Homo sapiens: one gene and its partners. The protein of the gene in region 1 interacts with the protein of each later gene in a pairwise test. Each region holds a gene or a part of one and is shown in the gene's direction. Other genes may lie near its edges. The genes, in order: MTIF3, NAT8, HTATIP2 and STARD4.

Region 1 (5,454 bases):
GAACAGCATTTCCCTCACACTTGCAGTTACAGCCTCCACAACCTCACACACACCCTGCCATGTACCACAATGTCAGACCAAGGGAATAAGTGATTGAATTTTAATGAACTCTTCTTACTACTTTCTTAGGATGGCTGCTCTTTTTCTAAAGAGGTTAACACTACAAACTGTAAAGTCTGAAAATAGTTGCATTAGATGTTTTGGTAAACACATCCTGCAAAAGACAGCACCAGCACAGTTGTCCCCTATTGCTTCTGCCCCAAGACTCTCCTTCCTAATTCATGCAAAAGCCTTTAGTACCGCTGAAGACACCCAGAATGAAGGAAAAAAGACAAAAAAGAATAAAACAGCTTTTAGTAACGTTGGAAGAAAAATTAGTCAGCGAGTTATTCACTTATTTGATGAGAAGGGCAATGATTTGGGAAACATGCACCGAGCAAATGTGATTAGACTTATGGATGAGCGAGACCTGCGACTGGTTCAAAGGAACACCAGCACAGAACCTGCAGAGTATCAGCTCATGACAGGATTGCAGATCCTCCAGGAGCGGCAGAGGCTGAGGGAGATGGAGAAGGCGAACCCCAAAACTGGTAGGTATTTTGCTGTTGGCTCCCTGAATCCTTTAAGAGCTACAAATCAGCAGTTTAAATTCTAGCATTTGTCAAGGTGCCTGTGACAAGAGGGAAATGAGAAACTAGAAAATTCATGATTCAACCACCATTCCCAGTGTCTGTCTTTCCTCCTTTATCCTGCACTTACTCCTGTTCCCTTTTTTTCACTGTTTTTCCACAATACCCTGCCCATTATCTCTTCCCTTTAAACCTGTGTAAAATGTGGGAGAAACCAGGCAAACAAACCAAAGTGAAGAGAACTCTTTCCCCTGTCCTGTGGCCTTCTCCCAATGCCGCAGCAAGCTGAGTAGCCGATGGGGTGAAACAGAGTGAGATTAGGAGGGGTACATTCAAGTTCCCTGCCCTCTGCCGGGCCACTCATTTAACCTCCCTCCTTTTGTTTTTCTTCCCCTTCTTCAACTCTAAAGTGGAGGTGTTTGGTTAATTATCTGGAAGCACCTTTTTATTTTTTTGAGATGAGTCTCTGCCTGCCGCCCAGGCTGGAGTGCAGTGGTGCGATGTGTGCTCACTGCAACCTTCGCCTCCCAGGCTCAAGCGATTCTCCTGCCTTAGCCTCCCCAGTGGCTGGGATTACAGGCGCCCGCCACCACGCCCGGCTAATTTTTGTATTTTTAATAGAGAGGGGGTTTCACCATGTTGGCCAGGCTGGTCTTGAACTCCTGGCCTTAAGTGATCTGCCCTCCTCGGCCTCCCAAAGTGCTGGGATTACAGGCGTGATCCACTGCGCCTAGCCTGGAAGCACCTTTTCGACTCTGAAGTGATTCACAGAGCATCTCCCATGCCAAAGCATTGTGTTGCAATATCAGTAGCAACACTCTTAGATATACAACCAGTCACTTGACGAGGCACTTGTCATTTAAGCCTCACAGAAGTCAGGAATTGGATATTAAGCAAAGATGTTTGTTTTTCATAGTTCCTAAAAAGTGCCAATCATTATGAAAGTTCAATGGATGGCGCACGGGGACAGGCATCAGATGACTGCTCCCAGCACTGCATCGTGAGGTTGTGTGCCTTCAGAAAACCACATGTTATCTGCGGCTCAGTTTTGTAATGCCACATTTAACAAGGATGTTGACTGGAAAACAATATTCAGAAGAGACCAACCAGGGAGGATAATGACGTCAAACTATGTCACTTAAAAAAAAAAAGGTCACTGGGCGTGGTGGCTCACGTCTGTAATCCCAGCACTTTGGGAGGCCAAGGCAGGTGGATGGCTTGAGCTCAGGAATTCAATACCAGCCTGGGCAATATAGCAAAACCCCATCTCTACAAAAAATTTTAAAATTAGCAAGGTGTAGTGGTGCAAACCTGTGATCCCAGCTACTTGGGAGGCTGAGGTGGGAGGATCACTTGAGCCTAGGAGGCAAAGGCTGCAGTGAAGAACCATGATCATGCCACTGCACTTCAGCCTGGGTGACAGAGCGAGACCCTGTGTTTAAAAAAAAAAAAAAAAAAAAAAAAAACAGTCTTGCTCTGTTGCCCAGGCTGGAGTGCTGTGGTGTGATTTCGGCTCACTGCAGCCTCCATCTCCTGGGATCCAGCAATCCTCCCACCTCTGCCTCCCACACAGCTGGGACCACAGGTGCACACCACCATGCCTGGCCTTTTTTTTTTTTTTTTTTTTTTGTAGAGATGGGGTCTCGCTATGTTGCTCAGGTCTTGAACTCCTGAGCTCCAACGATCTGCCTGCTTCAGCCTCCCAAAGTGCTGGGATTATAGGCGTGAGCCAGCACACCTGGCCCCCAATCTTTATGATGAACCCTGGTGCATACTCTAGGGTCTATGAACCTAAATGGATCAAACTGCTCAGCAGCAGTGTATGCAGTTTCTCTACCTCCTCCCTCATTTGTCATTTTAATGGTGAGAAATTAATGTGTATTTCACTTTTTTCTTCTGTGAATTGCGTGTTTATATTCCTTTATTTTTCTACGTAGATGGTTTTTCTCCGATTTATAGGGTTCTCTGTTGTGTATGATGGAAAAAACCGTATCCCAGTTAGATTTTTCATTTTGCCTTTTTTTCTTAATGAGTTCCATCCCCTATCCTGAGATCACAAACCATTCTGTCTTTTCTTCTGTTTGTTTTAAAGTTGTATTTTTCACCTGTAGAACATTAGTATACCTGGGGAGACCTAACTTTTTGTCATCTATAAACTTCTCAATTGTCCCAACACCTTTATTGAGTGGCCGGTTCCTTCTCTATAATTTTCCAGTAGGCAGGATTTCTGGAGACAGAGGGCATGAACACAGGATGTAGGGACCCTTACCTGTCCAACAGTCTGGCTGACCCCTTATAGCAAGGAGAGCATCTCAAAAGGAGTGGGTAGTGCACTCCCAGATGCCAACCCACAGCTGATAGATAAGGATGTTAAGTGCACCATGAAGCCAAACTTGATCCTTTAAACGACTATCTTTTGGTGTTCTTTCAACAAACGATGGTTAACAATAAATGGAAGCATTTCAGATTTTAAGTACCCTTCCAGGGCAGGTAAAAAATTGGTACCTTTATGTGTATCTTCCCCATTTGAAAAGACATTTACTGGTCTGTGAAACTGAAAGCCAGATGAGAAGATTGTCAGGTGGCAACCTAGGATTTTATGATGGGCATGTTGGGAAGTTCAGGGTTCACAGTGGACTAGTCAGTAGTCCTTGCACCCTATCTGTTTCAAACCAGGACCAACCCTGAGAAAGGAACTGATTTTGTCTTCAAATATTGGACAACATGATTTGGACACAAAGACTAAACAGATTCAGCAGTGGATTAAGAAAAAACACCTAGTCCAGATTACCATAAAGAAAGGAAAAAATGTAGACGTGTCAGAAAATGAAATGGTAAGTAAAGAAGGTACAAGCCACTGCTTGTGCTTTGGGTCTTCTGATCTAAAAATACAATTGTAGGCCAGGCGCGGTGGCTCACGCCTGTAATCCCAGCATTTTGGGAGGCCAAGGTGGGCGGATCACGAGATCAGGAGATTGAGACCAACCTGGCTAACATGGTGAAACCCCGTCTCTACTAAAAATACAAAAAATTAGCCAGGCGTGGTGGCGGGCACCTGTAGTCCCAGCTACTGGGGAAGCTGAGGCAGGAGAATGGCGTGAACCCGGGAGGCGGAGCTTGCAGTGAGCCGAGATCGCGCCACTGCACTCCAGCCTGGGTGACAGAGCAAGACTCCGTCTCAAAAAAAAAAAAAAAAAAAAAAAATTGTAGAAAATCTGAAATATAAAGACAAAGTGACTGGTAATTCTTCCACCCAGTGATGTTAACAGCTTTCTAGTTTGCTTTTCAAAACTAAGCATACTGTAGATATAGTTTCCATTACAGCGTATTTTGCCATATGAACACATTATTCCTTAAAAGCAATATACTATTGTTTTATAAATTGTAGAATAACCCTTAAACAGGAAAATTAGAAACTTTATAGATTTTTTGTTTCTTCTTTGTACTTATAGGGGCATTAATTACGTAGACTGTCTTCTAGAAAGTGTGTAGTTTCCAATCCCATAAGTTTATGGAATACCTATTTTGCTTTTTTTTTTTAAAAGTTAGATAACTTTATCATCCACTAAGGGTATCCTTAGTAATCCAGCTCCACAGTAGAGTCACTTAAGCATAGGTCGCAACCCAGCTGATGCAGAATTTCTTGAGCCCAGGTATCCATTTGTTTCAGTCACTGAGAGAGACTCTGTTAGGGGCAATAGAGAGTGCTGAGAACTGCTCGGCTGACACCTTGGGGATGAGGAGGTATTTTGCCAATGCCCAAACCCAGTGCTTTCTGTTTGTGGGAGAGGGTAATGCTGAGCCAAACGTAGCCTCTTCGTGCCATGACGAAGTGGAGATTTAAAATTAGGAAGCATTCAGCATGTCAGTTTAGTTACATGGTGTTATTGTACAGATTTCAGTCAACTTAACCAGATACGTATGAACTGATTAGCTAATCACTTAACCGACAGCAGCAATTCAAGGGTGCCAGTTTTTGTGAATGTTCAAGCAGAACATTAGAAAGCACCAAAGCCTCTGATTTTAAATTAATCTTTGGCTGTTTCCCTTTTTTAGGAGGAGATATTTCATCAAATACTCCAGACTATGCCTGGAATAGCTACATTCTCATCTAGGCCACAAGCTGTTCAAGGAGGAAAAGCTTTAATGTGTGTTCTTCGTGCTTTCAGCAAAAATGAGGAGAAGGCATATAAAGAAACTCAAGAGACCCAGGAAAGAGACACTTTGAACAAAGACCATGGAAATGATAAGGAATCAAATGTTCTGCATCAGTAATTTTAATAAAGAAAAGCATGCTCTGAGAGAAAGCTCGCTCCTTGGTCTGCAGTCCTTTAAACAAAGCAGTGCAGTTCTTAGCCAAGGGTAAGTACTGCAACTGTCGAGAGCATCTTGTCTTCCACACAGTTGGGTGACTCTCCGTTTTGACACAAAGATAAGCCTTGCCCTTGTTTCCTTTTGGGAGGGATATATCCACTGAGATGAGAGGCCAAACTCCGTTTTTCACGAGATTTTTTGACCTTTGGGAATAAGGAAGACACACGATTAGAATTCAAAATCAAAACTGTCTGAGTTAATTTTACGATAGTCATATGTACCAGCAGATATAGTGTACAACATTGCTTTATGAGGAAGTAAAGTCTTCAACAGTAGTGCAGACTCAAACAGTAAAGCAGGTGAAAAGAATTCCAAACAGACTCCTTCTGGCCTTAAACAATTTCCACTTGAAAACTAAGCTTGCCTAAGTAGTTTCAACTTACTTTGAGCTTCATTTTCTTCTTGTCAGGATCATGTACAACAGCATGCCTAGTGAGACTTTGCTACAATG
Region 2 (7,022 bases), on another chromosome or scaffold:
AGAATGACTTTGACGAGTTGAGACAAGAAGGCTTCAGACAATCAAACTTTTCGAAGCTAAAGCAGAAAGTTCAAACCCATCGCAAAGAAGCTAAAAAGTTTGAAAAAAGATTAGACGAATGGCTAACTAGAATAACCAGGGTAGAGAAGTCCTTAAATGACCTGATGGAGCTGAAAACCATGGCATGAGAACTATGTGATAAATGCACAAGCCTCAGTAGCCAATTCGATCAACTGGAAGAAAGGGTATCAGTGATTGAAGATCAAATGAATGAAATGAAGCGAGAAGAGAAGTTTAGAGAAAAAAGAGTAAAAAGAAACAAACAAAGCCTCCAAGAAATATGAGACTATGTGAAAAGACCAAATCTACATCTAATTTGTGTACCTGAAAGTGATGAGGAGAATGGAACCAAGTTGGAAAATACTCTGCAGGATATTATCCAGGAGAACTTCCCCAACCTAGCAAGGCAGGCCAACATTCAAATTCAGGAAATACAGAGAACGCCACAAAGATACTCCTCGAGAAGAGCAACTCCAAGACACATAATTGTCAGATTCACCAAAGTTGAAATGAAGGACAAAATGTTAAGGGCAGCCAGAGAGAAAGGTCGGGTTACCCACAAAGGGAAGCCCATCAGACTAACAGCTGATCTCTTGGCAGAAACTCCAATCCAGAAGAGAGTGGGGGCCAGTATTCAACATTCTTAAAGAAAAGAATTTTCAACCCAGAATTTCATATCCAGCCAAACTAAGCTTCGTAAGTGAAGGAGAAATAAAATTCTTTACAGACAAGCAAATGCTGAGAGATTTTGTCACCACCATGCCTGCCCTACAAGAGCTCCTGAAGGAAGCACTAAACCTGGAAGGGAACAACCGGTACCAGCCACTGCAAAAACATGCCAAATTGTAAAGACCGTCGATGCTAGGAAGAAACTTCATCAACTAATGAGCAAAATAACCAGCTAACATCATAATGACAGGATCAAATTCACACATAACAATATTAACCTTAAATGTAAATGGGCTGAATGCTCCAATTAAAAGACACAGACTGGCAAATTGGATAAAGAGTCAAGACCCATCAGTGTGACCATCAGGAGACCCATTACACGTGCAGAGACACACACAGGCTCAAAACAAAGGGATGGAGGAAGATCTACCAAGCAAATGGAAAACAAAAAAAGGCAGGGGTTGCAATCCTAGTCTCTGATAAAACAGACTTTAAACCAACAAAGATCAAAAGAGACAAAGAAGGCCATTACATAAAGGTAAAGGGATCAATTCAACAAGAAGAGCTCACTATCCTAAATACATATGCACCCAATACAGGAGCACCCAGATTCATAAAGCAAGTCCTTAGAGACCTACAAAGAGACTTAAACTCCCACCACAATAATAATGGGAGACTTTAACACCCCACTGTCAACTTTAGACAGATCAACGAGACAGAAAGTTAACAAGGCTATCCAGGAATTGAACTCAGCTCTGCACCAAGCAGACCTAATAGACATCTACAGAAGTCTCCACCCCAAATCAACAGAATATACATTCTTCTCAGCACCACATCGCACTTATTCCAAAATTGACCACATAGGTGGAAGTAAAGCACTCCTCAGCAAATGTAAAAGAACAGAAATTACAACAAACTGTCTCTCAGACCACATTGCAGTCAAACTAGAACTCAGGATTAAGAAACTCACTCAAAACCACTCAGCTACATGGAAACTGAACCTGCTCCTGAATGACTACTGGGTACATAATGAAATGAAGGCAGAAATAAAGATGTTCTTTGAAACCAATGAGAACAAAGACCAGAATCTCTGGGACACATTTAAAGCAGTGTGTAGAGGGAAATTTATAGCACTAAATGCCCACAAAAGAAACTCCATCATCCCAGCCCAAAAATCTCGTTAAGCTGACAAGCAAATTCAGCAAAGTCTCAGGATACAAAATCAATGTGCAAAAATCACAAGTACACCAATAAAAGACAGAGAGCCAAATCATGAGTGAACTCCCATTCACAATTGCTTCAAAGAGAATAAAATACCTAGGAATCCAACTCACAAGGGATGTGAAGGACGTCTTCAAGGAGAACTAAGTCCTAACTGTCAAGTTCACCTTCCTAACAAAGTTATTCCGGATGTGATGTCTCCACCATCGTCCTGGTCCCAGAGCCCCATCAGGTGTGTCCTCCTGGGCAGCAGCCTCGCTTCTGACATCTGGTGCCTTCATGCCAAGTCCAGGCACAGCACATAACAAGCCTTCGGCCACTGTTTGTTGAATGAATAAATGAATCTTTCAGGTCCGACAAGGAAAGCCCAGGCTTTTATCAGGAAAGCTACAAAAATGCAGAAGTCACAGTAAATCCTGGGAGCAAGAGACGCCTGAATGTCAAGTGAGGTCGCTGTGTTTTGAGGAAGCCACAGCCACGGGTGAGCATGGAGGGAGAGACAGCACACAGGGACGGAGCACAAACCTCTCCCCCTCCACGTGACCGGCAGGTTTCTGACTGAATATTGGTTAGACTCACACTAGAAGTACTCAGTGGTGCTTTGGAGCCACCGCTCACCTCTTTTGATTCCTAGGCCAACTCCTGCTTGACACTGAAATGTTGCGAGAACACTCTAAAGATGAGCCATGGACTTCCTGCCCAGACTTGATGCTCCTTAGACTTTTCCTCGGAGGTGGTGTTGGGTACCAAAGATCTGGAATCTCAGCAGCCTCCACTGGCTGGCCCTGGGTTCCTGCTGCTGACTCCCAGCTTCTGGTTTCTGCTGAAGAAGGCTGCAGGGCAGCACCTTTAGGGGAAGCCTTGACTTTTCCAGATCTGGGCTCTCTCCAGTGTTTTCCTGAATGCCCCTACCAGAAGCCTGGCTGTCGTCTCTGAGCCCTTCCTCATCCTCCTCCCTGTGTGAATCATTCCAACTCCTGCCATTTCTGCCCCAAATGCACCTCCATACGGCTCATGTCTCACCTTCTTGACTTCCTCCCTCTGGTGAAGCCACTGCTGTCTCATGGGCCTCTGCTAACCCAGGCGGCTTCTTTGTGAACCCAGAGCTAGGCACAGCCTCAAGCCATGCAGCCCACTGGATGCAGAGTTTAGCAGGCAAGCAACGCCTTTGAGCAAATAAGAAAAGGTTGCCTTTTCCTTTGGCCAGTCTCAGTTTCGTGCCATGGCTCATGGCTTGGCAACCAGAGGGAGGCCCAGTTTTAGCTCCCACCAGAGCCTCTGGGCCAGCTGCTCTTGTACAGTGAGCACCTGCATCCCTGTACTGGAGGCCCCGCTCTTGCCTGGATGTGGCATGAGCCTTGAGGGGTAGCTGCTTCCATTCCTACCTCCTCAGATCCATTGTCCACCTGCAGCCAGAGTGATGCTTGCGTGCGCACACACACACACACACACACCTCCTCCCCTCCGTGCATATCAATGTCCTCCCCTTGCTCTTGGAATAGAGTCCAAACTACCTAACCTAGATGACGGGCCCAGCGTGGCTGATCATCAATAGGTTAGCTAATCTTTGGAAGGGAAGTTTCCCTTCAATAGCATGTAAGTTGGTGTGGAAAAGGGCTTTTTCTGTTAGGTTTTGCTTTTGCCTATCTTGTATATGTTGCATCCTTGTAATTGGGCCCCTTGAGATTTCAGCACCACACCATGTTTTAGTGACTGAAATAATGAACATTCTGATCAGACCGTTGCTGGCTTGCACATGTTAACCACTTGCTTTTGGTCCAATATTCCTTGTTCCCACAACATAATGATAAACTGCTCATGTACTGTTTCTTTGTTCAGCAGGAAGACATTCCTTCAGGGTCAGGAAAAGTTTGCAGAATGAATGAATGCCTTGAAGGACACTGTGACCAGCTGCTGACACTGAGAAGCCTGGTTGCACAAGGTGTTATCTCAGACTGAGGAAACACAGACTTTTCCTCTCAATCCCCCTGAACTCCCCCTTCCTCACTCTCTAGCTGCATAAAAACATTCTGCTGCTGCTTCTTTGTTGAACTGAAGTTGAGAGATCTTGCTCTCCTGCCTTCTTGCTTTGGCCAAATCGAATACAACTTTCTCTATCTCCAAGCACCCATGTGTCAGTGTTTGGGATCAGCTCCACGTCGGGTACAAGAGCATGAATTTGGGCCTCCCCAACATCTGCAGTGCAAAATATTTAACAACGGGTGTGGCACAGCCTCTGACCAACAGCCAGAACACACACAAGCCACACACAGCCATGCCTGTCAAGCCGAATGTCAACCTTGCTCATGGCTGAAATGACCCCAGGACACAGGAAGTGCATGACACACAACTGTTGACTGAATCAATGAATGGGTGGAGATGGGGGTTGGTGAGGTGAGTGCAAGGAACTGCCAACAACAGATGCTTCGTGGACCAGGGAAACCTCAGCGAGGAGAAGCCTAGCTGGGAAGGGCCTTGTTGCCAAGCATGGGGACTCGGCTTCTGGCCAATGGTGACTGATTGCAGGGTGAATGGTACAGTTCTCAGGCTCGTCGTATATGTGTACAAGGACCAGGGTGGATCGTATATGTGGACAGGGACCGAGAGTACTAAGTGTGCCAGGTGGCAGAGAGATGCACGGGGCCTGAACAGGCAAGAGAGGTGGCAGGCCTTCCAGAAGGGCAAGGAACCCAGGCGGTTCCAGACCCTGAGTCTCCCCCTCCAGGTCGTTCCCTTTGACCACAAAGAGGAATGCACACTGGGCTCCCTGCTGTGTTACAGCCCAGCTCTTTGACCCTAGGGTTGATGATTACCAAACATTCAGGAGCCAAGCAATAAGGCAGGCAGTCTACTTTCCAGGGGTGAGCAAGCCCCAGACGGTATCTCCTGGATGCCAGTGAGCGGCTGAGAGCTGAAGCTCCCTGGACACTCAAGGCTCTTGTGGTGACAGGTGAGGGGACTGGGTGGAAGGACAGTGCTCTGAGCATGCACCTTCCTTGGGATCTGGAGGCTGGGCTGTTTTTTATGCTTGGCTCTTATGCCACTTCAGCAACCTAAAAACTTACAATAAAGCTGGAGGGAGCCTTTCCTGAAACTTGTGTTGGACAGAGAATTTTTGCGATGTATGGTCCCTGGAGAAGGACAAAAGGGTTGCACGTGTGGCCTGCCTGAGGTAGGTGCCCCCTCAATGCACGGAGAAGCTGAGAGAGCCAGAAAAAGGAAACAGAAAAAGGAAGAGCGGTGGGTAGTTCATCTACCAGGGCTTTATAGAAGGCATCTTATTCAATCTTCAAAACAACTCTAGAAGGCAGGTTTTCTTCTCCCCTGTTCTATAGTTGAAGAAATGGAGGCTCAGAGAGGTTAAGTGACATGCCTAAGGTCACACAGCTAGAAAGGGATGGAACCAGATTCCAATGCAGGTCTTTCTGACCCTACCTTCTCCCAGTGGCAGAGGCCTGCTTCCTCATGGGCAAACGCGGAAAGACACACCCTTGAGCAGGTCTCCCTGTTCCTGCAAGGCTGGGAGCCATGCAGGCACTCACATGATTTTCTCTCTCTTCCCCAGTCTGACGTAAAGGCGTGCAGGGAGGCCTAGCTCTGTCTCCTGGACTTAGAGATTTCAGACACAGAAGTCTGTCCATGGCTCCTTGTCACATCCGCAAATACCAGGAGAGCGACCGCCAGTGGGTTGTGGGCTTGCTCTCCCGGGGGATGGCCGAGCATGCCCCAGCCACCTTCCGGCAATTGCTGAAGCTGCCTCGAACCCTCATACTCTTACTTGGGGGGCCCCTCGCCCTACTCCTGGTCTCTGGATCCTGGCTTCTAGCCCTCGTGTTCAGCATCAGCCTCTTCCCTGCCCTGTGGTTCCTTGCCAAAAAACCCTGGACGGAGTATGTGGACATGACATTGTGCACAGACATGTCTGACATTACCAAATCCTACCTGAGTGAGCGTGGCTCCTGCTTCTGGGTGGCTGAGTCTGAAGAGAAGGTGGTGGGCATGGTAGGAGCTCTGCCTGTTGATGATCCCACCTTGAGGGAGAAGCGGTTGCAGCTGTTTCATCTCTTTGTGGACAGTGAGCACCGTCGTCAGGGGATAGCAAAAGCCCTGGTCAGGACTGTCCTCCAGTTTGCCCGGGACCAGGGCTACAGTGAAGTTATCCTGGACACCGGCACCATCCAGCTCTCTGCTATGGCCCTCTACCAGAGCATGGGCTTCAAGAAGACGGGCCAGTCCTTCTTCTGTGTGTGGGCCAGGCTAGTGGCTCTTCATACAGTTCATTTCATCTACCACCTCCCTTCTTCTAAGGTAGGGAGTCTGTGATCTCTTTCTGTGTGTATTGGTCAGAATAGAATCCATTCAGCTGTAGCAGCAAGCAATCCCCAACCTTTCACTGCAATGACCTTTCAATGCAATAAAAGCTTATTGTCCATTCACATCTGAGTCCCATGTGATTGCTTGTGGGGTAGCTTCTGGGTTTCTGCTTCATTCAGTCTTTTTGATTCCCATCTGTTTCATTTTTCTAGTGCCAGCATAATGTTGCATAAGAACAACCACCAAATGAAACAAATATTTATTTAGTTCATGAGTCTGAAGTCAGCAATTTTGCCTGAGCTTGGCTGGGCAGTTCCTCTGGTGTCAGACTGCATTGTACAAATGCAGTGGGATTGGCTGAAAGACTAGGTCAATGGTGCTGTTTCGTTTTCCCACAGGCTACCTCAGGCATGGTTTCAAGGAAATTGCAGAGGAGCAAAAACAAAAGCAGAAACAAACAAATGTGTTTTCAAACCCCTGCATGTGTTGCATCTTCCCCAAACTCAAGGAGAGGAACCTGTCTCTGCAGTGAGAAGGGCTGCAAAGTCACATAGCAAAAGGGTGGAATGCAGCCTCGGGAGAAGAATTGGGGCCAGAGACACAACCAATCCACTCTAACTCCAGGGTCTCTGCAGAGGGAAGAAGGTGGCCTCAGAGGGGAGTGTGGGATTTACCATGGGCTAGACCTGGAAGTAGTATAACTCTTCCAGGGGATCATAACAGAATACCTGAGACTGGGTAATTTATAAGGAAAAGAG
Region 3 (7,032 bases), on another chromosome or scaffold:
AGGGGAAGAAACAGATGTGGAAGAAAAATTTAGTGTCTTAGAATTTTTCTATGTAGTTTTGGGCTGTTTCTCTTGGCACACTTTCAGCACATCTAAAGTCTCCATTTGGAGAATGGCTCTGAGGGTAATCACTTCTCTCAGGATGTGCTGAGTACTTAAATTGGTTTGCTTTACACTAATTTTAAAAGCAACTGCATGAATTTGAGTCGGTATATAGACAGCTTGGCAAGTCCGTTGTTCAGGACTGAGTGTCAAAGTATACAACAAAAAGTATACAAAAGGAGATGGTGATGACTCGTGAGTAAAGAGGTAAGTTTATATTACCCACAAACTAAGGTAGAAAAAGTAAGGCAGAAAAATAACACTGTCCTCCAGGTGGTGGATATAGTTAAAAATGTACTTGTGAGTGATGGGAAAGGAGGATGAGGAAGGCTTTTACAGTAATGGTAATGTTCTATTTCTTGATCTTGGAACTGGTGGCAGAGCATGTTCAGTTTATGAAAATTTATTGAGCTCTATACTTATGTTTACTTTTATGATACACTTCCATACAAAGTTAAAAAATCTGCATGGGCGTATTGTTTTAAAATTGAATTCTGTATTAGTTTCCTATTGCTGCTTTAATAAATTCCTCAAATTTAGCAGCTTAAGACAACACAAATTTATCATCTTAGAAGTCTGACACGGGTTTACCTGAGATAAAATCAAGGTGTTGACAGAGCTGCATTCCTTTCTGGGAGGCTGTAGGACAGAAACCATTTCCATACGTTTTTCAGCTTCTAGAGGCCACCCCCATTCCTTGGCCTGTGGTCCCCTTACCATCCTTAAGGCCAGCAATGTGGTAGCTGAGCCCTTCTTAGGTTGCATTACTCCAGCCTGCTCTTCTGCCTCGTTCTTTTACTTTTAAGGGCCCTTGTGATTACATTGGGCCCACATGGATAATTCAAACTAATCTCTCTGTTTCAAGGCCAGCTGATTAGCACCCTAATTCTAAACACTGAATTTCTAAAACACTGAATTTCCCTTCCACATCTATTTCTTCCCCTCATGCCAGTTCACTAGAACTCTGATTTTAATAATGTGTTTGTTACAACAAAATGACACAGTTGACTGGTGAAATAAATTCAGTTTTTTTGTTGTTGTTGTTTTAGCATGATTCATCTTGCTTCTGCCTAAATACCATCTGTGATGGAATTCCCCCTTGTCATGTAACATGACATATTCACAAAGATTAGGACGTGGGCATCTTTGAGGGACCATTATTCTGCCTACCACAATCACGGATTAGTCATTTTCATTAGCGAGAGAGGGTGGGGGATAAAAAAGGAACATGGGTACAGTGAAAAGAGCACTGCTCAGAGTCCAGAATCTGCACTCTGCTCTCGGCTCTCCCACTTCCCAGCTAACAGTTCACCCGCCCACTGGACCTTGGTTCCTGTCTATATCATGAGGGGACTGGATGTGATATTTCCTAAGGTACCTTCTAACATTCTGTGAAAGATACACATCGCCCTACCAAATAGAACATTTAGAATCAGTAACTACTGAGGAGCAAATTTTTTAATTAAAAAAAAAAATCAGGCCGGGCGCGGTGGCTCACACCTGTAATCCCAGCACTTTGGAAGGCCAAGGTGGGCGGGTCATCTGAGGTCAGGAGTTCAAGACCAGCCTCGCTAACGTGGTGAAACCCTGTCTCTACTAAAATACAAAAATTAGCCGGACATGGTGACATGTGTCTATAATCCCAGCTACTTGGGAGGCTGAGGCAGGAGAATCACTTGAACTCAGGAGGCAGAGGTTGTGGTGAGTGGAGACCACGCCACTGCCCTCCAGCCTGGGCAACAGAGCAAGACTGTCTCAATCAATCAATCACTGGGGCAGTAGTCCAGTCTTCAGATTTGGAATTCCTACTACTCTAAGACCTCATTCTGTAATTGTGACTACCTATAAAGTTCAGCTTCAATAGACTTTAGACTTGTCTTCAGCTGTCTTGGGTTTGAAGATGCCAGAATTTATGGTGGTCTCAAGAGACTGTTACTCCTTGGAATTCCCTTTTCTGGGTAAAGGTGCATGCTTTTCAGTTAGGCCCTGGAAGTGAGTCTATATTCTGTTATTTGTGTCATTCTCTTCCCTCCCCCTTTTATTGCCACTTAGTTCTGTTTGTTTCTGACTGGATTTACCTTTTCTCTGCTTTCATTGGCGTTTTGTTCATTCATTTTTGGAGCATCTACCATATGCTGGACATGTGCTGATGCTGAGAGATGAATTAAGAAAAAAGACCCAGCCACTGCCTTCACTGGACTGAATCTAGATTGGGTGTCTCCAAACACTTTTGACTAGAGACCCATTAATAAAAACGTTTGAGGATGCATTCTTTACTAATGTGTGAGGTACATTGTAGAGCATACACAAAAATTGGGAATTAAATAGACTTTGTTCTCTTAGTGCCTGGGGAGTGTCCTCACCCATACTCGGAGACCCTACCACATTAGAATTGACACAGAAAACAGGAGTGTAAAGTTGTGAAGTTATTAAGACAAAAAAAAAAGTCTGGCTTAAAAGTAGTTTCTCAGCCTGATCTTACTGTTCCCTTTGTTCTTTGCAGATTTGTTTGGTGTCTGTGTTTCAATGTCATTGTCCTTGTTTCCTTATTGCAGTCCAGTCTTGCTGCTAAAGCTGGTGTGCCTATCCAGAGGACCAGACCTGGAGCCTTTCCCAGGGTCTAAGCCTGACTTTCATGTATTGCTTGGACACATTTTATTTAGATCTCCATCCTTCTAGGCCTCCCAGCCTGCTACCCAAGCCAAGTAGTAATCTTTAAGATGAACTTGCTGCTTTTTGGAAATAACTCATGTCCTTTTCCCCCTTAGGAGGGATTTGTTCGTGTTGACCGAGATTATGTGCTGAAGTCTGCAGAGCTGGCAAAAGCTGGAGGGTGCAAACATTTCAACTTGCTATCCTCTAAAGGAGCTGATAAATCAAGCAATTTTTTATATCTACAAGTTAAGGTTTGTGCAAGTTTCTGTTTTTCATACACTTTGGAGAACCCTAGCTATTTGGCAGTACTAAAGAATATAAAATATTATATAATACAAAAACCATCAAATGCATCATATTATGCATTTGTATGGCTACGGGACTGCAGGAATATATTTAGTAAACAGGAATGATTGGAAAGGTAATTTCCAATGTCTTCCTCTCTATTAATTATCCAGCAACAAATGGAATGAGATATGGCATCTCCAGCCTTGACTGTCAGCATGGCAGCTTAGCATTGGAAGAGACTTGGAGGCAGTGATTCTTAAACTTTTCCGTCAGTCTCCCTAATGACTGAGCGGAAAGAAGAGCTTTTATTTGTGTAGAGATTTGGAGAAATCTATCCTGAAGCAGTATTCTAGTTACAGACTCAACTTTCTTTTCTTTTTTTTTTTTTTGAGACAGGTTCCCAGGCTGGAGTGCAGTGGCATGATCTTGGCTCGCTGCAGCCTCTGCCCCGCCAAGTAACTGGGACTAGAGGCATGAGCCACCATGCCTGGCTAATTTTTGTATTTTTGGTAGAGATGGGGTTTTGCCATGTTGCCCAGGCTGGTCTCAAACTCCTGAGTTCAAATGATCAGCCCATCTCAGCCTCCCAAAGTGCTGGGATTACAGGTGTGAGCCACTGCGTCTGGCCTCAACTTTCTTAAAAGTCTTAACGTTTTATCTTTTAAAAATTTATGCACATTTTGCTATTCTTAGTACTATACATATCCCTGTTTATTTTAATTTAAAAGGTTTCTATTAACTTACCTTTCAGTTAAATTGATGCTGTTGGAAGATAGGCATGGCTTTGTCTTTGTGTGCCTCCCTTTGCACCCCAGGTGCCCACAGTTTAAGCAGCAGAGCCACAGAGGTCATTCAGCCATAGACTTTTCCTATGTGAAGTCCTTTTACAGAAGTTCATCTCCTTTCTGCTTAAATATCTCCAGCACTACAGAGATTACTATCTCGTTAGCCAACTTTTTCTATTTTGGGTCAGATCTACTTGTCCAAAAGTCTTTACCTTGAAGTGAAATTTATTGTTATGTAAATACAAATTGTTATCAGTTCTGCCTTTTAAAATAACAAAAATACGTCCAGTCTTTCTTTTGCATTGTAGTTTTTAAGACATTTGGAGATTATGACCCCCTTAATTGTATGTTTCCCAGGCATAACACCTTTAAATCCTTGCACCATTCTTTATGGGTTCCTGTGTCTAGCTCCTTCATGACTGCATCACTTTGCTAAGGGTGAACTTTGCAGTGATATTATACTGGAACTGCACTGGGAGTACTATTCATGCTCCGAACACTATGTTTTTTTAAAAAAATAGGATATAAGATTGTTACTATTTTACCAAACATCCTTATTATGTTGTTGGCTCATGATCAGCCTGTAATATTAAAAATTTCCAGATTTTTTTCACATGGCTTATAGCTGAGCCATATCTCACCTATCCTAAAATAGTATTTTGAACCAGATGAAGATCAGTGAGCCACCAATGAAATTACATGAAGAATGGAAAAGTTTCCACTTAATTGTCAGAGTTTAGAACAATTCTTAAAAGGAAAAAATCTGTTTTCCTTTTTTTTTAGAGTCAAAGTCTTGCTCTGTCACCCAGGTTGAAGTGCAGTGGTGCGGTCACAGCTCACTACAACCTCAGATTCCTGGGCTCAAACAATCTCCAGCCTCAACCTCCTGAGCAGCTGGGACTACAGGCATGAGGGATCAGGCCCAACTTGTTTTTTAAAACACTGACACATGTGGGTTCTGAGAAAGGTTATCAAATAGGATTTTTGCTCTCATTAGCAAGATCAACATTTATACCTTTTAGGAAAGAAAATATACATAAGATATTTCCTCATTGTTAAAGATAAAGGCGTTACTACTGACTCACTGGGTTATAATAATGATTTAACCAGATTTTTAAAAAAATAGCTAACACTAAATGAGCCAGGCAGTATTCTGAGGGCTTTTATGTGCATTTGCGTGGAAACAGGTACTGTGATATTAAGACCACCAGCTGTTGGCTGGGCACGGTGGCTCACGCCTGTAATTCTAGCACTTTGGGAGGCCGAGGTGGGAAGATCACTTGAGGCTGGGAGTTTGAAACCAGCCTGGGAAACGTGGCAAAACCCTGTCTGTACTAAAAATACAAAAATTAACTGGCACAGTGGTGTATGCCTGTAATCCCAGCTACTCGGGAGGCTGAGGCAGGAGAATTGCATGAACCCGGGAAGCAGAGGCTGCAGTGAGCCAAGATCACATCACTGCACTCCAGCTTGGGGACAGAGTGAGACTCTGTCTCAAAAACAAAACAAAACAAAACAAACAACAACAACAACAACAACAACAAAAACACCAGCTGTTAAGCGGCAAAGCTAGAGCTTGAACCCAGGCTGATTCCAAGGCCTATGCCACTAGCTATTAAGTAATGAATAGCCTTTGTCACTAATACATGCAAAAGGGACCCAGCAGAGATTGGACCGTGACAGAGCCTCAGCAAATATTAAGGCCAATACAACGGAAAGACACTTCTGATTTCACTGCAATTGGCCTGCATTACCTGCAGCCTGGGATTATGAATTAGATTAATAAAGGACAGAAATGACAACCAAATGATCCAACCCAGAATGACGCTGAACAATATATAATTGCTTTTACAATTTGGAAAGATTATCTTTCCAAAATAATCCTTCAACTACTGTGTGTAACATTCCTAGTATTTATTGCCTATTTTCTCAGCCTCCATGTGTGTATGAACTCCCCCGCCCCACCCAATTTTAGAAACTCCTTTATTGTTTAGGAACATTTATTCTACTCAATGAAGTTTCAATTGCATTCATTCATGGTGGGCCAGCTCTGGGGGCTTGGATCAATCATGTGCTTTATGGGCATTCTGCTGGTGCCGTGGGGAGACGTGTCAGGATGTGGAGCCCAGAGTACTGGATGGGCCTCATGTCCTCTGTTCTCAGGGTTTATAAGCTTTGGTTTCCTCATCTATTCAGGGTGAAGGTATACTTTCCAGACATGTGACATTTTATTATTGGGTATCATCCTTGACCTCAAGGAGTTTATAATCTGCTTGTATTGAGGGATCCTCAAAGACACCCCCAAGTTTGGTAATTCACTAGAAGGTTTCATAGGACTCAGCATATAGTCATACTCACAGCTACAACTTATCGCATTGAAAGGATATAGAGCAAAATCAGCAAAGGGAAAAGGTGTGTCGGGTGAAGTCTGGAGGAAAGTAGGTACAAGCTTCCAAGAGGCCTCTCCCCATAGAGCTTGCACAGGATGTGCTTAATGTCTCCAGCGATGAACGTTTTCTGCCAGAGAAACTCATCTGAGCCTAGGAATGCAGGGTTTTTATGGGAGCCAGTTACATAGGCACATTGGCCTAGCCAAATTGCAGCCCTCCAGAAGAAAGGCAAGTTTTCAGCATAAACCACATTGTTTGTACAGACAGTTTAGGCATAGTACATGACCCTTATCAGATAGGGAATGGTGGGAACACACCGAAAATCCAAGGTTGCAAGCACAAGCCAGGGGCCAAACTTGTAACAGGCCTTTCTAAGGATAGCAGTCTCAGCCTGCTATGGTATCTCTTTTATGCACACTGCTAATAGAGACAAAACAAATCTTTTAAAAAGCTAAGAAATGGGCTGGGCGCGGTGGCTCACGCCTGTAATCCCAGCGCTTTGGGAGGCCGAGGCGGGCGGATCACGAGGTCAGGAGATTGAGACCATCCTGGCTAACACGGTGAAACCCCGTCTCTACTAAAAATACAAAAAATTAGCCGGGCGTGATGGCAGGTGCCTGTAGTCCCAGCTGCTCGGGAGGCTGAGGCAGGAGAACGGCATGAACCCGGGAGGCGGAGCTTGCAGTGAGCTGAGATTGCGCCACTGCACTCCAGCCTGGGCGACAGAGTGAGACTCCATCTCAAAAAAAAAAAAAAAAAAAAGCTAAGAAATGTGTGTACACATAAAATCTTGTGTATGACTGTTCATAGCA
Region 4 (7,032 bases), on another chromosome or scaffold:
ACAGGCATGAGCCACCATGCCTGGCCCACCCTTCACTAATTTTTATTCTTTTATTTTTATTTTTTTTTTGAGATGGAATCTCACTCCGTCACCTAGGCTGGAGTGCAGTGGCATGATCTTGGCTCACTGCAACCTCCACCTCCGGGGTTCAAGTGATTCTCCTGCCTCAGCCTCCCAACTAGCTGGGACTACAGGCGCATGCCACCATGCCTGGCTAATTTTTGTAATTTTAGTAGAGACAGGTTTTTGCCACGTTGGCCAGGCTGGTCTTGAACTCCTGACGTCAAGTGATCCACTCACCTCAGCCTCCCAGAATGCTGGGATTACAGACATGAGCCACCCTACCCGGCCTAATTTTTTTCCTTACTTTCAAAGTTAGCTATGCACTATAAGGGTATGCTGAAATTTTTTTATTGTAACAGCGGTTGACTTAAACTTTTTTTCTCCAGCTACAAAGCCCAAGGTGTTATAGATGACCTTGTCTATAGTATAATAGACCATATACGCCCAGGGCCTTGTCGTTTGGATTGGGACAGCTTGATGACTTCTTTGGATATTCTGGAGAACTTTGAAGAGGTATCTATTTAGAAACATTACTTTAGACTGTGTGTATGTGCATGAGGGAGGGCATGAGTGAGCCAGAGCATGTGAGCATGAGCATTTGTACACACTTATATTCATTGCTTTGAGAATAGCAGTCACGACAAAGATATCACAGGGGAGTCCCATGCTGCCTCTTAAAAAGTTTGTGTTTCCTCATACTAATTAATGAGTGTTAGACTGAGTTTCTTTTCCACAGTACCTATACCCTTGCTGCTTAAAACTATATTCAGCATCCTTCATTGTAAAACTTTAGTTAAGATTCTGAAATCTAAAATTCTGAAAACACCACCATCATATTTAGGTTTCTAGGTGAATGTGTGCAGCTTTTCCATTAATACTAAGCCAACATCAATGACCAAAGATAAAAATGCCACCTTAGATATTCTAAAATTATATAGCCAAAATGACCTGCCCTGTTTCTATTTTTATTAATTCATTGCTTAATGTTTGAATTTTTTACTTAAAATGTTTGATGTTGCAGTCAAAGTATTTGTGGATTTGATCTTAAACACTGAAACAGTCTACATCCCTAATTCCATTTGGAATGTTATGTAGAATAAGACAACTGCATTTAATTAGATATTTGGATACTGGATAACTTGTACCTCTGTATTTTGATTATATATCTTCTTCATGGCCATCCAATAGCAGTGAGATTTAGAATAGAGATCTAGACCTGTCAGAATCAGTGTAAGAATTATTATAATTATGAAACATTTTAAATAAATATTAGTTTCTTTCCAGAGATAAGTTTATGATATATGAAGCTATGTATGTTTCCTATAGTAGTAACACTTGTCTTATCTCTTCTTTTTCAGAATTGCTGTGTGATGCGTTACACTACTGCTGGTCAGCTTTGGAATATAATTTCCCCAAGAGAATTTGTTGATTTCTCCTATACTGTGGGCTATAAAGAAGGGCTTTTATCTTGTGGTAATAATCTCAACATGTTATGCTTTTTTTCAGTATGGTTTAAATATTTGTGTTTTCTTGGCTGGATGTCTCTTTCCTTGTGAGATATATTTTCAACTCTGACTCTGTAATCACTAACATTTTTTGCAAGTGCTAAACTCTAGGGAGTAAAATAGCAATATCAAAAGAGTTTTGAAACCCTTCTGATAAGTTTTTGTTCCCAGTTACACAGTATCCTCTAGGTCAGAGGTAGCAAATGTGGATCACATGACTGCCTCTAAGAAAGGGTTCTAGTAAATGGATTTTCTTCTAAGCCACTCTCAGAAAACAGTTTCTTGGTCATACACAGAGAAGTACTAGATTTGGTGTGTCTTAGAATATTCTTCCTTCCTTGAGCTGTGTTGTATTTTTCTTTTCAAGATTAAAAATACTGCCATTGGAAGGCTCCTGTTTTCTAAAACGTACCTATAGGTAAATTAATATTATTTTGTATATAGTGTATACTTAAGTTAGCAGTTGTAAGTAAACATCTACTTGTTTATTCTTAACTAGCCAGTACCAAACTATAATATGGTAGTCGCTGTGGGGAATAGTTACGGTACCATGGATTTGATTTTTGGCACCTCAAGGCCTGGATACTACAACCAAGATTTGTAGCTTCCAAGGAGTACTAAGATGATATGATGTCATGTATTCTGAAAGGATTAAAAGTTTCCCCATTACCTATCTGCCAACCTCTTGTCAGAATTCTCCTTGGTAAGTCTCTTTTTCACTCTGCCATGGTCACTTTGGGATTTAATTTTCATCTATATGGATAATAATAAATATTTAAATAAGAATTCTGGTAATATTTTAAAATGAGAGTTTTATGTCAGTTATTGCTATTAATAGTGCTATTTTAAAAATTGCCTTATAGGAATAAGTCTTGACTGGGATGAAAAGAGACCAGAATTTGTTCGAGGATATAACCATCCCTGTGGTTGGTTTTGTGTTCCACTTAAAGACAACCCAAACCAGAGTCTTTTGACAGGATATATTCAGACAGATCTGCGTGGGATGATTCCTCAGTCTGCGGTAGATACAGCCATGGCAAGCACTTTAACCAACTTCTATGGTGATTTACGAAAAGCTTTATGAGAGGCAAAATACATTCAAACTTGTAGTACTACAGATCAACTCTCTCAGCTACATGGCCTGTAAAAATCATTGATTCCACTTTTCTGCATAGCCGGTAGAAAAATTTGAAATGTTTTTGGTTCACTAGTACAATGTTTGGTTTTATTCCTAAAGTAAATAGCTATCTAAGAGAGGGCATTTTCACTTTTTTTTTTTTAAATTTTGAGACAGGCTCTCACTCTGTTGCCCATGCTGGAGGGCAGTGGTATGATCACAGCTCACTGCAGCTTTGATCTGACCGCTCAAGGGGTTATTCTACCTCAGCCTCCTGAATAGCTGGGAATACAGGTGCACGCCACTATGCATGGCTAATTTTTGTTTAATTTTTTGTAGAGATGTGGTCACACTGTGTTGCCCAGGCTGGTCTTGAACTCCTGGCCTCAAGTCATTCCCCACCTTAGCCTCCCAAAGTGTTGGGATTATAAGCGTGAGCCACCATGCCTGGCCCCAATTTAAAATGTGGAATTCAGTTGGTGTCCAAGACTTATCTTGAGACTCTTAAAAGCATCAGTCTGTAACTAGAACAAATACAGTCTTAGATTTACCCAAGTGCCTAGATATCATTTTATAATGATTAGAATTGAGTATTGTGGGTCCCCTAATTCTGTGGGTGCCTTAAGTGAGAATTTCTAAATGATTTTCACATTCTAAATGACTTTGGGTTTTGAACTCTCCATCTAGTTTACTTCTAAAATGGGAACTTGAGGCAATTCAGGTATCCAGGCAAATCTTTGTATATATTTTTTTGTGTACATGCACACATCTCGAAATCCATTTCCGTGTTTAATGTTAGTTGTTTATGTGTTAGTATTCCTGTGTCTACTGTTTTGTTGTTGTTAATATGGGTAAAGTGAGCCCTGAAATACATGCTAAACAAGACATGAAATGCAGAAAGGTACATAGTGTTTCAAGTGCATGGTAGTTTGATCTGTGTTTTACTTTATTGTGTTTTCTTGAGTGTAAAGAAAGAATAAATCAAAGTTCTTCATACCCATTTTGACAAAGTGGAACAGTGGAGCTGTTTTTTGCTTTTGTTTTTATTTATTTTTTGCCACTGGTGATGATAGATTTCAAAAAACAAAAGGTGGCAGCAGCACAATGTTCATGGTGAATTATCTCATAGTATCTAGATTGATCAAGATCTGACAGAAGGAATGCACAAAGGATTCTATATTCTTAATGATTTATTAATTACCAGGATCCTTTTCTAAATTGAATGTACTTTTGAATTACTAGGTTTCTTCTTTTTTTTTGTTCTGCAATAGTGAAAGAAAACTCAGTAGTTTAGTTTCAGTTTCTCATGGAAATTGGTAAATGTTAGTTTTGACTTCATCTATTTTTTATTTGTTTTTATTAGCGTAGAGTAGGAAGTCTCATATTCTACTGTTCTATCTAGGATGGTGAAATTCCAAAGGTGCCTAACTTGAGTAAGGGATTTGTGACAAGATAGTACACATTACTATAAGGGCTATTATTTCCTGAACTGGATGTCCCTAAAAGCAAATAAACTGCCCACTATCTCTACTCTAGTGCTCTCTTTGTCCTTATCAACATATACCTCCAATAAGTAATTACATAATTCACCGTTAAACATGGACCCACTCTAGGTAAAATTACCCTCATGGAAACATTTTCACTGTGAGAATGATGAATTTAAAAATTATGTTTGAATCACCTAAAATGTATGTGCAGCTTCTAGATGGCCCCTTAGATCTGCTGGGCTCTAGCTGTGTACTTTAAAAAAACAAAAACAGCTTTATTGATATATAATTTACATATTATGTAATTTACCCACTTTTAAGTATCTAATTCAGTGATGTTTTAATACATATGTAGAACTATGCAGCCATCAGCACAATCTGGATTTAGAACGTTTCCATCATTCCAAAAGATTCCTTTTGTCTTTTTTGCAGACTCATACCTAACACAAATCTAAAGTTTATCACTGTTGCCAGGATAATTACAGCAGGTTATGTTTGGTTTCATTTTTAAGAGTGGAGGTGTTCATGATTCTAAGCTCAGGAATCTTGTGATCATGTATTAAATATGTTATCTCATACTATAATGATAAAAAAGCTTAATGATGTGGGTTGGGATGGATATTAACATAAATAATTGAGTCCGCTGCTTCTATAGCAATGCTGTAGGATAGAACAATAATGTAAGTGATATATGTAATTAAAAAATTCTAGAAGCCACATTAAAAAATAAAAATAAACAGCTGAAGTTAATTTTAATATTTTATTTAACTCAATACATCCAAAATGTTATCATTTTAACATGTAATTGATGTAAAGATTTATTCTGATAGTTTGTACTATTTCTTGTACTAATTTTTTGAAATCTGGTATGCATTTTACAAATTTGGGCAAGCCACATTTTAAGTGCTCATTAGCCACATGAGGCCAGTGGATACTGTATTGAATAGCACAGTCCTATAGCATATTTATTAATTTGTCTTGTAGTAAGATGAAATAGACAATAATACGGAATAATATCTTAAATGGAAATCTTTGTTAGTCTCTAGAGCCTTCATTGCTTGATAAATAGGACATCTAAACTTTAGATATAAATCAGTTGTCAATGAGATAAAATTATTGCCAGCAAATATTTTCCTTCAAAGATAAGTAACTTTTGATATGGCAGTTGGTGAAATGAAAGAATATAATCTGCCTTCTTGTTAAATGGTTGACTATTCTGTAGCTTGTAGGTAGTACGTATTAGAAACTTGTGTATGTGGGAAATATTTGGCATAATACTGTTTTCAGTATATAGTAGCTATTTTTTAAGGAAATTAGTTTCATACAAGAAAAAGATTATTATAAAAGTGATACTTTTGCATGAAATATTAGTTTGTGTTGATAACTCTTAGTTAACCCTTAAAGTTTAAAACAGTACTCAAAAAAAAATAATGAGAATCTAGTATTCTGTAGTTAACTAATCTATAAGATAAATTGCTAAAGTACTAGGGAGCTTGTAAATCTTAAAAATCTTTTTATTTCAGTGTTCATTCAGGTTGGATATATTTGAAATTGTAGATTTCTATCTGTACAACATCTCCTAGTTAATAGAATTTTTTTCCTTCCCCTCCCTTCTCTCTCCTCCTCCTTTTCTAACCAAAGGGCATTTTATCAACAATCATGCTGAATTCAATTAATATCTCAAGCTAAAAAACTATGTAATTGAGGTTGTATCTGGAGAAGATGGGAAAACATTGTATAATTTAAGCCCTTAATTGTCTGTTGAGCTTTTAGGGCTGAGTAATTGCCTTTCATACAAATAAAAGCTTTAACTCTTTTCTCAAGAGTGTACCACCGTCCTTAGAATCAGGTGTTTTAAATCCAGTTTCTTTTAATTAAATGGGACTGTAGTGATCCCTACCCTGTAGAGAAATCAACAGAACTAGAGAAGCTAAGGGCTTGATCAGGTTTCCCCTAGAACCTGTGTTGCCTGCCTGCTGTATCTTCCATGTCTTTCTTATTCAACTTCTAGAAGTAGAGAAGGTTGGGACTTGAGTGTAGAAGAAACATCAGAATAATTTCAAAAAACAGGAAGTTGGAACTATAATTTTTAAATTATTGTATTGTTTTTACGGATTTTACATGTATAGTTAAATATTAAAATTCATCTCTTGCAGTTCAATAAAAGCTATAGTATAGATTTTATTTTTAAGAAGTTTATATAATTCTTTTGTGAACCAATATGTAAAACTAGAATATTTATTAAACTAATAATATGTATTAGTATCAATAAAATATGTATTTATTTTTAAATTGGTATGAAACAAAATAAAAATTTGTAGACACTCTTAAAATTGGTCATTGATATTATCTTTGTAATTTAACATTAAGTACTATTTAGTTTCATATGCCTGAATTTAAAGTATGTAATTTAACTTCCTGAATTCTTACAAAAGGAAAATATAAACCTGGAAAGTCAAATTAACAACACACATGCTGATCTCTCCTGCCAGTGTCTCATATAATATTAGCTGTTATACAATACTGCTGAAACTTTATTTGCTATTATATATTCAGAACAAATAATATATTGTGCCTTTGTAAATTATGGACAGGATTTATTGTACACATGTTGAAATAATTGTGTTACCTTGATTAGGAATTATGATATTTTGTTTGGAATTGAAAAAAACTAAAAGTGATTACAAGGACACCCACGATCTATGTTATAAGAAGGCAGTTAGGGATGCTGTGGTAAGTATGTAATAGAAAATATGACTGTGAAGCAGGGAGTTACTTTCCTCATTTAATAAAACATCTGGTACTATGGTTTGAATATTTGTGTTCCCCTAAAACGCAGATGTTAAAATCCTAACCTCTA

The links.
Region 2: the proteins of MTIF3 (region 1) and NAT8 interact in binary tests that used the Homo sapiens proteins (3 or more experiments, as listed by UniProt).
Region 3: the proteins of MTIF3 (region 1) and HTATIP2 interact in binary tests that used the Homo sapiens proteins (3 or more experiments, as listed by UniProt).
Region 4: the proteins of MTIF3 (region 1) and STARD4 interact in binary tests that used the Homo sapiens proteins (3 or more experiments, as listed by UniProt).

Annotation. Positions count from the first base shown.
Region 1 is NC_000013.11:27,435,125-27,440,578, reverse strand, and holds the end of MTIF3 (translation initiation factor IF-3, mitochondrial), read left to right. Parts: intron 1-129; 5' UTR 130-130; coding exon 131-590; intron 591-3,305; coding exon 3,306-3,463; intron 3,464-4,685; coding exon 4,686-4,904; 3' UTR 4,905-4,936; downstream 4,937-5,454. Other genes in the region: GTF3A (transcription factor IIIA), read right to left, coding at 4,982-5,146, 5,387-5,446. UniProt on the Homo sapiens protein: IF-3 binds to the 28S ribosomal subunit and shifts the equilibrium between 55S ribosomes and their 39S and 28S subunits in favor of the free subunits, thus enhancing the availability of 28S subunits on which protein synthesis initiation begins.
Region 2 is NC_000002.12:73,640,196-73,647,217, reverse strand, and holds NAT8 (N-acetyltransferase 8), read left to right. Parts: upstream 1-4,795; 5' UTR 4,796-4,900; intron 4,901-5,515; 5' UTR 5,516-5,589; coding exon 5,590-6,273; 3' UTR 6,274-6,495; downstream 6,496-7,022. UniProt on the Homo sapiens protein: Endoplasmic reticulum (ER)-membrane-bound lysine N-acetyltransferase catalyzing the N6-acetylation of lysine residues in the lumen of the ER in various proteins, including PROM1 and BACE1, using acetyl-CoA as acetyl donor.
Region 3 is NC_000011.10:20,373,710-20,380,741, forward strand, and holds part of HTATIP2 (protein HTATIP2), read left to right. Parts: intron 1-2,870; coding exon 2,871-3,008; intron 3,009-7,032. UniProt on the Homo sapiens protein: Represses translation by preventing reactivation of elongation factor eEF1A. May also inhibit nuclear import by competing with nuclear import substrates for binding to a subset of nuclear transport receptors.
Region 4 is NC_000005.10:111,495,506-111,502,537, reverse strand, and holds the end of STARD4 (stAR-related lipid transfer protein 4), read left to right. Parts: intron 1-449; coding exon 450-576; intron 577-1,421; coding exon 1,422-1,536; coding exon of another isoform or gene 1,537-1,619; exon of another isoform or gene 1,620-2,067; coding exon of another isoform or gene 2,068-2,084; exon of another isoform or gene 2,085-2,373; intron 2,374-2,431; coding exon 2,432-2,652; 3' UTR 2,653-6,505; downstream 6,506-7,032. UniProt on the Homo sapiens protein: Involved in the intracellular transport of cholesterol. Binds cholesterol or other sterols.